2 linked regions of the Homo sapiens genome follow. The protein of the gene in region 1 binds, or shares a complex with, the protein of each later gene. Each region holds a gene or a part of one and is shown on either strand. Other genes may lie near its edges.

Region 1 (7,309 bases):
TTTTTTCTTTTTTTTTTTTTTTGAGATGGAGTTTCACTCTTGTCGCCTAGGCTGGAGTGCCGTGGCTCCCAGGTTAAGCGATTCTTCTGCCTCAGCCTCCCAAGTAGCTTGGATTACAGGTGCCGGCCACCATGCCCGGCTAATTTTGTAATTTTAGTAAAGACGGGGTTTCACCACGATGGCCAGGCTGGTCTCGAACTCCTAACCTCAGGTGATCTGCTCACTTCAGCCTCCCAAAGTGCTGGGATTACAGGCCTGAGCCACCACACCTGGCCCTTATTTCAATCTGTGATAATATCACATATCATGTAGGCGTTGGAAAATTCTATTGTTCATTTTCGAGGGAATATATATGCAAAAGGCAGGTAAATTCTACATATTTGTGTAACAATAGTTTTGACCTTACAGATCCTTTGTAAAGAATCCTGGGGACTTCTACGAGGTCCCCAGACCACACTTCTGGTTAACTGCTGCTCTTCTGGTTAACTTGAGATCTTTCTAAAACAATGATTGGGTCCTAGGAGACTATATGTTCATATCCTTTTATTATGTATTACTTAACTTTTCTTCAGGAAGAATCCCATTTCTTCCCATTATTAACTGTGTGATCTAAGACAGCCTCTGAGCTTCAATTCCTCATCTGCAAAGTGGAAATAATAGTACTGTACCTACTTCAGAGGATGATAGGATGAGTTAACAATCAGGAAATGGGTAATTGGAGAATTCTAACTGGTTTCACTTCTGGGCTCATTAAATCTCAAACCTCAGTAACCTGTTCTTTAATTCCCTCTTGGCCACAGTCTTGTCAGTTTTTTGTTTTTGTTTTTGAGACGAGGTCTTGCTCTGGTCTCTCAGGCTGCAGTGCAGTGGCACAGTCTTGGCTCACTGCAAGCTCCACCTCCTGGGCTCAAGTGATTCTCCCACCTCAGCCTCCTGAGTAGCTGGGACCACAGGCATGCACCACCACACTTGGCTAATGTTTTAATTTTTTTGTAGAGTCAAGGTCTCACCATATTGCCTGAGCTGGTCTCAATCTCCTGGGCTCAAGCAATCCTCTCACGCAGGCCTCCCAAAGTGCAGGGATTACAGGTGTGAGCCAAGCCTAGTCTTGTCAAAACTGTAGCTTCTCTGAGATTCATATGTTGCCACTGAATCTACCTATTTATGTTAAGGTAGTAAACTATTTTTCTTAGGCATTTTAATAATAGAGGTCTCTCTGCCTAGGAAATGCCATTTCTGATGCCAGAGCTCTGAATTCGTGCTGATAGCTGGAGGTTTAAACTGAGTGGTTTCTCTTCAGCTGATATGCCAGATAGTTTGTTTGTTTGTTTGTTTGTTTACTTATTTATTTATTTATTTATTTTGTGAGACGGAGTCTCTTTCACCCAGACTGGAGTGCAGTGGCATGATCTTGGCTCACTGCAAGCTCCGCCTCCTGGGTTCACGCCATTCTTCTGCCTCAGCCTCCCGAGTAGTTGGCACTGCAGGCGCCCGCCACCACACCCGGCTAATTTTTTGTATTTTTATTAGAGATGGGATTTCACCATGTTAGCCAGGATGGTCTCGATCTCCTGACCTCGTGATCCACCCGCCTCGGCCTCCCAAAGTGCTGGGATTACAGGCGTGAGCCACTGTGCCTGGCCTCAGATAGTTTACTCTTGCTACTAGTATCATGTTGATGAAATAGAGTTTTTTAAGTATCATGAGATGAAACAATTAAAAAGTAATTCCTAAACCACTGTGAGCAATGCAGTGGTAACTTTCGTTGAGCTAAGTGAGCTTAAAGATGACTGTGTATTGCTATTCTGTTTGTATGTACCTCTTCTAATCTGTGTTTGTAATCGTAATTTTTAAAGCAACCACAAAAAACATTAGTAGCATTATGTATTTTAAAAGCCTTGTGGTCAAGTGTGATGGCAATTACATGGGCTGTGGAATCTCAGGCTTTTTTCTGTTCCCAACACCACTCACTAGCTCTGTGAGCTTGAGAAAGTAAAGTAATCCAAGTTCCTCGCCTGAAAAAAATGGGGAGTAATTGAAATCTACTTTCTCACCTGTAAAATGGGGAGAAATGTGTTTACTTTCCAGGCCTGTTTTGAGAATTTAAATCAGAGATATTTTTAATGATACGTGATAATAGTTTAGTATTAGCTTAGTATTGCACACCTGTTGTGAGAATTTAAGTAAGAGATATTTTTAATGGTATGTGATAATAGTTTAGTATTAGCTTAGTATTGCACAAAGAGTGCACTAAATATATGTGTTCCCGTTAATTCTCTTTAGCTGTTAAAAATTTTTTAAATTTAAACTTGTAGATGGAATTATTTCTGTATCTAATGAAAGTTGAATGATCTAAAAATATTACTTCATGCAACTTAAAACACAGTTGGGCTGTAGAGTTGCTTATAAATTAACAACTCTTAGCTCCTGAAATTTATTGAAGGATATGAATGTTATTTATTTTTTTTTGTGTTTATTTTTTTTTTTTTGAGACAGAGTCTCACTCTGTCACCCAGGCTGGAGTGCAGTGGTGAGATCTCTTCTCACTGCAACCTCTGCCTCCCAGGTTCAAGTGATTCTCCTGCCTCAGCCTCCCAAGTAGCTGGGACTACAGACACGTGCCATCATGCCTGGCTAATTTTTGTATTTTTAGTAGAGACGGGGTTTCACTATGTTGGCCAGGTTGGTCTCAAACTCCTGACCTCAGGTGATCCACCCACCTTGGCCTCCTAAAGTGTTGGGTTTACAGGTGTGAGCCACTGCGCCCGGCCTAATCTCTTTCAAGTGATGTACAAGTGAGCTTTGGGAGCAATTCATATTTATATTATGATTAAAGTTTTATTAGCTGCTCTTAAATTACCACGTTTGATCCTCACAATTACCTTGTAATTTAAATACTGTGCTGTTATTATATTGTAATTATTTTAGTTACTCTTATGGAGCTCAGACCATAATTATGCTAGTTATGCTATGGCAAAGATATGTGCTAGTTACTTTAGGTATTCTTTTCACAATAATAGTAGAAGATGGGTAGCATTATTCCTCTTTTTTACAGAAGTAAAAATGGAAGCTTTAAAGAGGTTGACATGTCCTAAGTCACACAGTTAATATGTGGCTCCATTGTCCCTTGAATTCACATGTTTTGCCTTTGGATTTCATACACTAAGATTAAGGTACGCATTAAATATCAGGTGCAGATAATTTGATATAATGTTTCTTATTCATTTGCTTTAATACTTTTAAGAGAACAAGTCACCTCCAGTGGTTTATGTCTCTCATTTCATTTCCTGATTACAGCTTGGAAGTCTTTTTGCATGTTACTGTTCCACTGAAGTCACTCAGGCAATATGGGATGGATATCTACAACAAGCAGATCCATTTTTTATTTATTTCTTAATGTTAATTATCCTTGTTAATGCAAAGTAAGTATCTGGTTGGTTAGATTTTTTTTCCTCTTTTCTCAGGGTGCTCTGTTAATATTTAACTCAAATTGATTTGATTCCCTTTTACAGAGAAGTTATTTTAACACAAGAGTCAGACAGCAAAGAAGAAGTTATCAGTAAGTATCATTTAATGTAGTGAAAACATTTCAGGTCTCTTTATCTGTGTAAGTTACTCAGTTTCCTCATTCGTAAATTTAGGAGATTAGTCTAGAAGAGCTCTGAGGCTCCATTCAACTCTCAGATTATATAAACACTCTCCAGGTACAGACCTTAAAGACTATTTTCCTTTATTTTGCCATCTTCATTCATTCCTTCATATTTGTTCACTCTTTCATTCCTTTCCATATACTATTTCATTAGTTTCACTGTTCGAATAGATTGCCCTCCTCTGTTCCTCCCTACCCATCCTTAATTTACCTTTCAATACTCAGTTTATATGATATTTCAATTGTGAAACCTTGGTTCTCCTTTTGGATTCTCCCCACCATATCCCCCACATAGAGATAGTTACTTCCTCTCTATATTCCCTGGCACTTTGTTCTATCTGTATAACAATGTTTATCTTACTGTATTATAATGATTTATTTTTATTTTTTCACACAAGACAAAGTTCTTTAAGTCAGTAACTATTTCTTAGGCATTTTTTATGTTCAGGGGCCTTGGCATTTCTTCATATATGTTTAATAAATAAATCATAGAATTCTAATTAAGGTTAATGAATTTGATTTGATTGCCTGACACTATCCTTCACTGACAAGAGATTTACATTAGCCGTTTCAGCTCATTTGGAGAAATCCACTTTTCCACAAGTCATTGTAAAAGCACCAGTGTTGAGACTCCATTTGCATAGTATTTATGATGAAGATATTTCGGCTCTGATACATAAACAATATTTGCATTTTTCACAAACTACTAAATATTATGTCTATAATATTTCAGAGTTCTTGGAAAATACTCCATCCAGTCTGAATATAGAAGATATAGAAGACCTTTTCTCTCTGGCTCAGTATTATTGCAGCAAAACACCGGCTTCTTTTAGGAAGGTATAAGACCAGAAATGACCAACTATGTTGTATTTCATATTTTGTACATTGTTTTATTACTTTATATTCACTTTAGTTAAAATAGGTTGTCAATTTTTTCTGTTTCTTTATGTGTTGTAGTTTTGTGTGATTTTTTTTTTTCATCTCTGTAAATACCCTCCCTAGTGGAGGAACAGACAAGTTAAAAAGATAGTAGAACGCATCTTACCTCTCTTCTGATTATTGTTATTTCTGATCATAAGAAAATTGACTGAGATATTTTCTAAATTAGTGCTTTCTTGACTTTAAAAATTATATTACAGGGCCGGGCGTGGTGGCTCACGCCTGTAATCCCAGCACTTTGGGAGGCCAAGGTGGGTGGATCACGAGGTCGGGAGATCGAGACCATCCTGGCTAACACGGTGAAACCCTATCTTTACTAAGAAATACAAAAAATTAGCCGGGCGTGGTGGTGGGCGCCTGTAGTCCCAGCTACTCGGGAGGCTGAGGAAGGAGAATGGCGTGAACCCAGGAGGCGGAGTTTGCAGTGAGCTGAGATTGTGCCACTGCACTCCAGCCTGGGCGACAGAGTGAAGACTCTGTCTCAAAAAAAAAAAAAAAAAAATTATATTACAGTAGTAATCCAGTGGAGGAGGTAGAGTTTTGCCACTTTTCTCTGGAGTTCAGGCTTGTATAGTCTTAATAATGCTGAGCTGTCTTATAAAGAAAGGTCATTTAGGCCCCGTAAAGACTTAGATCCTTAGACCAGACAGATGCCTAATAAAGGACACCAGATTAGAAGTATGAGTGATGTGAACTCCTGAAAAATGAAACTCTAAGAAGCAAAAGCTAATAGTGGAAGAGGCACAAGTTTATAAAGCAGACAGGTTTGTATGTGACTTCAGGTGCCCATGAGAGCACCTTTTTTTTTAAAGCATTCTGCCATAATAATTTCTAGTTGGTACTCATCGTGTCACTGAAGTGTCAAGATAAAGTTAAGTTATGTTTAGTATACTGTGTTTTAGAAAGCAGGTAAAGGAAACCTTTTAAGATCATTTTCCCTCAAAAATAACTAATTTAAAAAGACTTATTTCTAGGGACCAGTTTCAACTATTTTAATAATTTTCTTATATAGAACTCTTCAGTTCCTAACAATGCTGTATAAGTCAGATGGTAGGATAGTAGTTTAAAATACTGAATGAAAAAGAAGTCTTATTTTTTTTCTTATTCAAGAGCTGCACCTTTTATTCTTCAGACATAGTGAAACTGTACTAGCAGTTGTGAATTAGAGCAGGCTGTGGATCAGTATTTTAACTCATTTATGCAATAGATTTCTGCCACATATTTGTTTTTATTAAGATATGAAAAATTGTAAGTAACCATTTTTAAAGTTCAATATTAACTACAGGTGGTAGTATAGAAAATAGCTATTTAGAATGTGTTTTTTTTTTCTTAGTCTTTCATTTTGTATGAACACTGACAGGGACTTTATGTGACATTTTTGTAGTTCTTAGCCTATAAAATTTGAGATTATGTAGTATTAAGTTTTAAAAAATCACAACTCAAGAGTATTATAATTTTACCTTTTATCATGGTTTAATAAGAATATTTTTAGGAAGAAAGTTTGATTTTTTTTTTCATAATGTTTAAAAATTTCCCTTCAAACAGGATAATCACCATCTCTTTGGTAGTACTTTGTTGGGAATTAAGGATGATGATGCAGATCTGAGTCAGGCTCTTTGTCTGGCCATCTCCGTGTCAGAGATCCTTCAAGCGAATCAGCTACAAGGGGTAAGTAAAGGAAACCCAGTTTGTTAGGGGACTGTTCATTTTAAATACAAGGAACCAACTTCCTCCCTGTTCATTGATTCCCACAAAATCAATTTACTGCAACAAGGTGGCTCTTTTGGCTTTTTGAATGATTGTGTTAAATGTTATGTTCAGAGGGTCATTTTAAAACTTGTCAGCTTGTGTGGTGTTTTAATTGTCTACAATTAATTATTGTTGACATTCTTGACACCAGTTTTTGTAAATCGCCGTATCTTTTTTCCATATTTCAGTAGAGCAACTGAATGTGGCATTGTATAAAATACTTTTAAAAGGGTGAATTTAGCATTTAACAGTTTCTGGTAGTTTACAGCTAATTGAATTACATGGTTTAGTTCCATACAACTTATAGCAAAGGAGAATTGTGAAAATGAAATTTTCTTCATGAAAATCTAATAAGTCAATTTGACCAATGATGTTTTTAATATATGGTCTTTATTACTAGTAGTGCAGCAGTTAACCATGGTGTGTATTTGGAAGGTGTAGTGTATTTCCAAGGTTGAGGGCAGGAAAGGAATGGACGTGGGAAAATAGCCTTTTATGGTAGATCTTTCTTAGTTGGATTTCTTACTGTATCTGCGCTGGTTATTGAGGATTTTCAAAATACAAGCATCTCACTTTTTTCTTATTCAAACTAATATTTAAAAACAAATGAAAACATGTTATCCAGTTTAAAGAGATCCATGTGAACTTCTTTAGTTGAAACTGGTATTTCAGAACATTCTCCCTTCATCCCCCCACACGAAATAGATGTTTAGTTCTTACGTGAATTGAGCTGTTGATAAATTTGCAGATTTATTTGCAAAAAAGAATAGCATATCTAGAGTTGTGTTTATAACTATATAGCGTTTTATAATTAGTTTTATAATTAATTATAATTAGTTTTATAGCTCAAACAGACACTCTCCTTCTATGTATTTTAAGACTTTCCAGTAAAGAACAACATCTAAAAAAGAAAAATGTTTTAACTGTTTAAAAGAAATAAAAGTATTTAGGACCTTCGGGTTATTTTCTGTG
Region 2 (2,823 bases), on another chromosome or scaffold:
TCCAGTATTGAGAGATGATATGATAGGGCATTATGAATTCCTATGGGTGTCTGTAAATTATGTATGTCAGTTGGACATTGTAGAAGGTATGTAAATCAGCATAGTTGTGTATAACTTAACCTTGATTTATAAGGTCTTAAGATTATGACTATTCATTGACATCTCATGAGAAGCTTTAGAAGACTTTCTATTTTTAAACACCATTTATATGTGGACTTCTGTTGTCACTGACTTTGGGCTTTATATTTTCATAGAGTCTTTATGGAAAAAATAGAATTTATTTTCCACTCTTGTAGCTATAGCTGCTGCACACTTTCACCCTGATTTATTTTTTTGTTTCTTAGCTTTGATGTTTTCAAACCAAGGATTGTGATTTTAGGTTAGAATTACATATTAGAAGCATTAAGACTATGTCTTTGGATCAGAATGCTTTAGTGATAAACCTACTTTGAAGACATACTCTTAAGCAATCTGGATCTTAAATTTATGTGAATACTTTTTTAGAAAATGATAAAGAAAAATGGAATTACTTCAAAGTGTTTCTTGAGTCATTGATTCTTTTAGCATCTCAAATGTTAATTAGAATAATTGGAATCACTTTTTAGACTTTTCAAGTTACCTTCCTTGGGAAGTTTGTGCAGTGTTATAGTTTAGTTTAGCTCCTCTTACAGGGTAATGGTTTGCTAGTTTAAAACTGTAACCAAACGAACTGGTCAGACAACATATATCTAAAACACTTAAAATGTTAGGAAGTTTGGGAATGTTATAACCTAAACGTTTTTGCTGGTAACTTTTTGTTATTTATAGATATTTGTGTATTTAACATACATACTTCAGGAAATATATGCCTTTCCTAAAACTTAACCATGCATTCAATACCATGGCCTATCTATAGAATTGAATATTTTGGACCATGTTATCTGTGGCACAGTCAGTGCTGTGTTTGAGGTAAATGCAGTAACGGTTAGTTTTCTACTTTGTCTTATAGAAGGTAGAAACCATGTGTATGTTATGTTTGTCTATAAAAGAAAAAATACTAATATTAAATAATTTCTTACGACTCTGAGTCACTCACTTATTTTTCCAATAATTGATATTGTACATTCCTAGTGCCATTAGGTATGTATGTATGTAACTTTTACAGTTTTTCAGCTGAAAGTTGTAAGTATTTTTTTTTTTTGATCGGGGCTCTTTAATCTCATTTTAATTTCCTTTGTTTGAACTGTAGTTATTTTATTTATTCCTATATTAACCATCTAAACCAACTGTAATGACATGTACACTAATACAGAATTGAACATTTGTAGTTGTTGGCAGTGAACCCAGTTGTTGGTGAATTTAAAGCTTAAAATATGGGAATGATTTGCTGCTATATTTCCTTTGAGAGAGAAAGGAGGAAGAAATAGAACCTAATAGTGATCATGAATTTTAGGGAAAGTACCGAAGAACCATGGGGTCCCCTCTGGTTTCTTGTGTTGAATGAGGCAAGGGTAATCATCTGATTCCGAGCTGAAGACCTCTGGTCCTCTTAAGGAGGGAGAGTGCATTTTTAGAGCTTTTAGCAAAATGTGAAAAGCTGATGTTTGCGCCTTGCTTTGTGAATTTGGCTTTGTTTTACTTATACATTAACTCATGTAATCTCTTAAATCTTACAAGCATTGATCCATTTCAACAAAAAGGTAAATTTAAAATGCAGACTTTGTTATTTGCCAAAGAAGATTCATGAAAAATTTACGTCCAATTATTTTGCAAATAGTTAATTTCATTTGGCTTTTTACCATGTTCCTTCCTTTCTTTTTCCCGCTTCCTTAATGTAATTTAAACCCTGGCAAACATTCTTTAGAAACCAAGAGGAAAGAAAGAACAAATATCAAAAAAGACATAGAATTTAATATTGATACAATTTCACCTCTAAAATGGATTTGAAGAAATGCAACTTTATATCAAAAAATGTCATCTGATTTCCTTTGTTTCTTTTTTAAATTATGTAATCAGATGATTTTATGTTTTTTTTTCAGGGGAGCGGAATATTGGTTTCTTTTACTTGTTGTTTTCAGTTTTCTCTGCCATTCATGTTTCTTTTTTGTGTTCAGTGTTTCAAATACAATTTGTATTTAAGGATTTTAAAATACCAAACTGTAACTGAGTACAGTGGATCGTTTTCTGTTAGGATGTTAATATTATACAATGAAATCTATAAAGTGTTGTCAATTTGATTATTGACACATATAACATGTTTACAAATAAACTGTGGTATTGATCAAGTTACTATGAAAATGTGTTTAATTTTCTGAAAGTTCCTGTCTTAATTTTAAATACAACCATGGTTTGGTGCTGTGGCTTTCCTGTACTTAAAAAAAAAAAAAACCCACAAAAAACTTAATTATTTTGTAGTAATTTCAGATTTACAGAAACTGGCAAAGATAGTCAGATGTTCCCTGTACCCTTCACTGAGCTTCCCCTAGCGTGGACACCTTCTGTAAACTATGGCAGGTCTATGAAAACTCAGAAGTTAACCCTGGTACTAGTATTTTCTAAACTGCACACTTGATTAGGCTTTTACCAGTTTTCCCACTAATGTCTTTTTGTTGTCAAGATCCAGTCCAGGATACCACATCGCATGTATTTAGTTATCAGTGTCTCATTAGTCTCCTCCAATATAACATTTTCTCGGTCTTTCATGACCTTGACACTAGAAAGAGTACCGGTCAGTTATTTTGTAAGACATCCTTCAGTGTGGGTTTGTCTGATGTTTCCTCGTGATTAGACTGAGGCTACGTTTTATCAGAAAGGGTACTACAAAGGTGATGTGCCCTTCCCCCC

What was found.
Region 2: the proteins of TBC1D23 (region 1) and FAM91A1 are in contact, whole or in part, in a crystal structure (PDB 8JJ9), measured with the Homo sapiens proteins. Residues at the interface, in NP_001186127.1 of Homo sapiens: Arg533, His534, Val535, Ser536, Ser537, Asp539, Val541, Gly542, Lys543, Pro544, Tyr545, Arg546, Val548, Pro550, Val551, Phe552; in NP_659400.3 of Homo sapiens: Arg49, Glu60, Arg61, Tyr64, Asp84, Ile85, Lys88, Gly89, Leu90, Arg91, Ile92, Thr93, Phe95, Ser96, Ile159, Pro161, Tyr176, Ile177, Thr178, Glu179, Asp181, Ile182, Lys190, Asp194, Ile197, Asp198, Tyr216, Asn217, Lys218, Gly219.

Annotation. Positions count from the first base shown.
Region 1 is NC_000003.12:100,291,790-100,299,098, forward strand, and holds part of TBC1D23 (TBC1 domain family member 23), read left to right. Parts: intron 1-3,055; exon of another isoform or gene 3,056-3,137; coding exon of another isoform or gene 3,138-3,173; intron 3,174-3,297; coding exon 3,298-3,422; intron 3,423-3,512; coding exon 3,513-3,559; intron 3,560-4,382; coding exon 4,383-4,486; intron 4,487-6,133; coding exon 6,134-6,256; intron 6,257-7,309. UniProt on the Homo sapiens protein: Putative Rab GTPase-activating protein which plays a role in vesicular trafficking. Involved in endosome-to-Golgi trafficking.
Region 2 is NC_000008.11:123,813,176-123,815,998, forward strand, and holds the end of FAM91A1 (protein FAM91A1), read left to right. Parts: 3' UTR 1-2,277; downstream 2,278-2,823. UniProt on the Homo sapiens protein: As component of the WDR11 complex acts together with TBC1D23 to facilitate the golgin-mediated capture of vesicles generated using AP-1.